Linked DNA regions of Homo sapiens: region 1 is linked to region 2. The links come from fine-mapping of genetic effects on gene expression. A gene starts in region 2. The other region holds a variant in brackets. All regions are shown on one strand. Distances are from middle to middle.

What was found.
Region 1: its variant is fine-mapped to the expression of PDK2 in whole blood (INTERVAL, PIP above 0.99).

What each region holds. Positions count from the first base shown.
Region 1 is chr17:50,056,826-50,059,325 of GRCh38, forward strand. The region is part of intron 1 of ITGA3 (integrin subunit alpha 3); the gene reads left to right. Among named protein-coding and RNA genes, the nearest start is that of ITGA3, 2.0 kb to the left of the region's middle. The variant G/T (reference allele first, on the strand shown) is at 1,176.
Region 2 is chr17:50,093,800-50,096,299 of GRCh38, forward strand. PDK2 (pyruvate dehydrogenase kinase 2) reads left to right here and starts at 1,552. Exons shown (of 11, transcript NM_002611.5): 1 at 1,552-1,754. The coding sequence starts at 1,637. LOC124904024 (a long non-coding RNA gene) reads left to right here. Exons shown (of 2, transcript XR_007065837.1): 2 at 543-854. RefSeq lists enhancers at 711-920, 1,952-2,467, 2,468-2,500 and a silencer at 1,301-1,420.

The DNA of each region.
Region 1 (2,500 bases), 37 kb before region 2:
ATTGGCAAGTGCTGACGGGGCCAGAACCTGTCTGGACGCCACCCCTCCGCCCTTTAGATCTCTCATGAGAGCGGAAGTGGGGTCCCGGTGGCTGAGTCCTCTCCCATTCTGTGAACCGAGTACCCAGCACTAGCCTGTTCTCTCCAGGGCTGGGAGCTGGGGTAAACTGCAAGATAAACACCCAGCGGACTCCCCCCTTCCCGTACGCTTGGGGGAAAAATGAGCATATACATTTAAGCACCTCGCTGGTAGTCTGCGGCCACGCCAGCCACACCCTCTGCAGAGCCAGACTGGATGGCCTTCTCAACCGCTGGCTTGGCGGATGGAGGGTGAGGCGATGGGTGAGTCTGGGCGTTTGGAGCTGTCCATACGCTCCCTCTGACGCCTTGAGGATAGGGGCGGTGAAAGAGAGAGGAGGACTTGTCCCAACTCTGGCTGGGTCTCCTCCTGCCCACCCGCAAGCAGTGGCACTCTCCCCGCAGACATCTTCCCTGCATTCCACAGATTCGTGTTGGATCTTCAACCCTGAGTGTGTTTGTTTTGGTTTGAAGAGGGAAACAGTGTTTTTCTCTTTCTTCTGTTCTCCTTCCCCAACAGCTGCAAGGAGGAGGGGAAGAGCTATGCACAGTGGAGGAAGGAGGAGGAGGTTGCACCCAGCCTCCTGGGTCCCCCTCACTCCACCAGACGCCCTCATGCCCAGGAGCATGTCCAGGCTTCAGAGGTCTCTCTGCCGTGGCCTCAGAGCGCGCGGAGGTTGGCGGTTGGGGGAGGTGAAGCTGTCCAAAGAGGGACGGTGTTTAGGACAGGTTAAGCAGGTACCATCCACCACTTTGGGCTGGGCGATCTGCCAGGCATCTGCCCCCACCTAGCCTCTGCCCCCACCTGGCCTCTGACCCCACTGAACAAGAAGACGTGGTCACATCCAGGGTACACTGGAAAATCTCCCTGCTCTGGCTGGGGCCTGCAGAGCTTGAGGAAGTTTAGAATGTCCAAAGTCCAAACTCTGCCCCCGCCTTGGTTCTGCCCTCCTGACCCAGCCTACCTACCTGGACTTAACCTCAACTCCATCTTGCTCTTGCAGAGGCTAGGGCTACCACACCCTTCCCAGCCTGGCCCCAGCAGCTGCCACCTGGCCTTAGCCAACCCTCTATCTTTTGGAGATCCTGAGCCACCAT[G/T]AGCACAAGTTTCTACATCAGCTCTTTCTGCCCTAACTGAGAAAAAGATTTTCAGACTTTCAATGCCAAATCTGCATGATATAAGATAACATAGGTAAAGAGATCAGACTGGAAAGAAAGAGTCAATAATGATTCCGCAACCCTTTTGCCTGGTGACCTTGAGCAAGATATTTCCCCTCCCTGGGCCAGGTTTCCCCCAAAACGGGTTGGACCTGGATCTAGTGCTCTTTCCCACTGCTGCTGGCCTGTGAGAAGCAACTTGATATGGTAGAGGGAGAAGAGGCTTGGAGGTCCCATGGCCAGTGTCCTGTCTCAGATCTGTTACCAATACCTGAACCTGAATTTCCGCACATGTTGGAGGGAGGGGAACAGCATGCCTTCTGCTGGGATGTTAGTGGGGCTGTAACGAGATAAAGTGCGTAAAATCCTCTGCACATGTGCCTTTCTCCAAGGAGCACCTGAAGGCTCTTGCGCTGAGGCCAGAACCTGGATGCATCCTCATTACCCATGGGCCCCGCCCAGGGTGGCTGAGCAAAGGGGTTCTACTTTTCTGTCTGGGAAGCTGGAGCTGGCATTCAGCCTGCCAAGAGCCCAGAAGGTTCTAAAGCTAATGAACCTCTGAGGGGCAGTTCTCTCCCTTGAGTATCCTCAGTCTTTCCTAAGGGTGGTTCTGTGTCTTGGCCCTTCTCTTCATCTCACTAAATTCGACCCCTCGGCCATTTGGGAGAGCCAGCTGGGCTTAGCTGCAGCCAGCTGTGTAGCCAGATGCAAACAGCTGCCTGAGTGCACAACTCAGAGGAACTAACTAGTAAGACGAGCTGCAGCCTCATATTCTGTTAGCCTGAAAGTCTCTTTGGAAAAGTGGGATGGTTCGTGGTCTTGGACAGGCTCTTAAACTGGGGTTCGTAGAAGGTTTTCAAGAGATGCAGGGACTCCCTGAAAGTGTACCCAAAATCGTAGTATTTGTCCACTGCCCTGGGGGTGGGAGGAGGGGAGAGCACAGCTTTCTTGTTCTCCATTCATAAGGCCTCAGAAATGGTTAGAAACCCAGGGGTGGGACCCTCTTTGCTGCCCCATCACCTTCATCTCTGGACTGGGGTTCCTGGTCCACAACATAGGGGGCTAGCCCCAACCCAGGGCCCAGTCTCCTAGTCTGTGGAAATGAGGGGTAAGGAGCAGGCAGAGGACCAAAGTGCTCTGGGCTTCTTGGCAAGATGCATGAGGGGTTCCTTGGAGGGACAGGGACTGTTCTCTGGGAGGTGGTTACTGACACCCTCTCTGCTCCAGCACCTGCACTGACATTCCCTCCTGGGAATCCAGGCATT
Region 2 (2,500 bases):
AACCCTGTCTCTACTAAAATTACAAAAATTAGCCAGGCATGGTAGTACATGCCTGTTATCCCAGCTACTTGGAAAGCTGAGACAGGAGAATCGCTTGAACCTGGGAGGAGAAGTTTGCAGTGAGCCAAGGTTGTGCCACTGCACTCCAGCTTGGACGACAGAGGGAGACTCAATCTCAAAAAAAAAAAAAAAAAAAAAAAAAATAGCCCATTGAAAGGCTGTGAGCAAGGAAGTAATAAGGTCAGATTTGCAGTTGAGAATGATCCCTGAGTCTCGGTTTTCTTATCTATGAAATGAGGCTAAGAATAATAAAATAGAGAATTAAATGAGATAATGCCTGTAAACAGTGCCTGGCATATAGCTTATTATTCATCCAGCTAAGAGGCCCTTCCATATGTGAAGCTTTGCTCTGTGAGGTCTGTATTACAATCACATTCAGTTATAGCTAATTATTTACTTATGTAGCTATCTCTGAAACTTAGAAATGAAATCATCGAGGAAAAAGGCCATTTCTTGATCCTGTCTGTGTTCCCTGTTCCCAGCATAAAGCCTAACACGTATTAGGCTAATGTCACCGAGCAAAGAAAGCATCAAAGTGGCGGGTCGGGCCCTAAACCCACGATGGGAGATACCACATTCGGCCACAAGAGGGCGCGTCACATTTTCTCCAAGAGAAGCTGGGCCGCTGATGAAGGACGGGCTCCGGGCCTCCCAGAGACACTTCACCTCCTGGGATCTTGCTCTAAGGAAGCCCGGTGCGAAGGAGGTGGCTTTCTCAGGTGGTCGCGCTAGATGTCCAAGGCTTTATGTTCGGTCAGATGAGCTGTATAATAAAATGAAAGTGTTAACTGGCATGGACGATAGCTGCTGCCTCCACCGCCACTAGTAGTGATGGTTTTTACTCTGGATGTTTTTCAGTTGGAAAAGCAAACTCCGCCTTTTCCTGAGCCGCTTGGATCTTTGTGGAAGCGGGTGGGCTGCATATATACAGGACGGATTCGTATAGGCTTGCACCCTGGTTCCGAATTTTGCAAATATTCGCAGTCTGGGTCACTGTCATCCGGACTGGGAATCCCCAAGACCCGTTAAGGGAGGATAGGTAACGATCATGACAGGTGAAACAGGTACCTTTGAGTTGGAGAAAAGGGATTGGTTGAAAGCTACCTAGACAACTCTGGAAAGGAAGGGTTAAAAGGAGCCTGCAGGTGAAGGAGATGCGAGGGGGTAGCAAGGGAAAGGCAGGCGTGGAAGAGGAAGCGAAAGGGCTGGCGGGGCTCTGGGAAGGAAGGGGTTAACCCGGGCTTCGCCCCGCGGAGGAAAGGGAGGAGTGAACACAGGGGAGGTGGGAACTCGGCGCGGCCTCCCCAAAACAACAGGCCGCCCCGGCAAAGCGTGGGTTAAGGGGGCGGGCCCGGGGGAAGCCACGTGCCGGGGCGGAAGGCTATTGGTTCGCCCGGAGTTGTTTGTGAGTGGCCATTGGCGACGTCGAGGCGCCATGACGAGCCGATTGGCTGGGCGTTGGAATGCCCGCCAGGGCAAGGGTAGGGAGGAGGCGGCCGAACCGCGTCGCTGGGCCGAAAGGTGCGCGAGCGCTGCCCGCGCGGGGACCACAACCAAAGTCGCGGCCGCCGCAGCCATGCGCTGGGTGTGGGCGCTGCTGAAGAATGCGTCCCTGGCAGGGGCGCCCAAGTACATAGAGCACTTCAGCAAGTTCTCCCCGTCCCCGCTGTCCATGAAGCAGTTTCTGGACTTCGGTACGGAGTGGGCGGGAGGCGGCTGGCAGCGGAGGCCGGCGGGGCGCTGGGAGGGGCAGCCGGGGGCTAGGGGGACGGAGGAGAAGAAAGGCCCCGAGTGACAGAGAAGGGTTGTTTGGAAAGGTACAGGCAGGAAAGAGTTAATGGGGAAGCAGGAACCGGCCGGGGCCTCTCGACGGGGCTGCTGATGGGAATGGGGGGCATTTACAAGGACGGTCCCGAGGTTTCTTCGTGGGCCTCATGAAGGGTCTTGAAGAGTAAGGGGCAGTGAAGCTGTGATGTTACTGCAGGAAGGGAGTAGGGTGGTATCCAGACGCGAAAGGGTTAATGGGAGTTGTCCTCATGACTGGAGGAGTAGGGGCCCCTCCTCCCACCAGAGGAAACCGGGGGTCTGCTGGTGGGAGTGAGGAGGCAGGGTTTAGAGGTGCAGCCATCTGTAGAGAGACCTGGACTGGGCATGAAGGGTCAGACACCCCTGGGCAGAGGGTGAGATTAAGCCAGGGGCAGTTGGGGAAGGGGGCTCTTTCAGAAGATGCCATTGGGAGACAGTGCCCTGACTGGTAGACATCCACCCACAGAAGGAGCTGGACCCTAGCTGCCCCAGTGGGCAAGGACACTTGAAGATCAAATCTGTTCCGGCCTGGCAGCCTCTCCCCAGCTGGGCAGGGGCCCCAGGCACCGTGATGTGGAGTCAAGCCGCCTATACCTCCCTTGGCTGCCCCAGGGCTGCTAGGTCAGGATCGCCC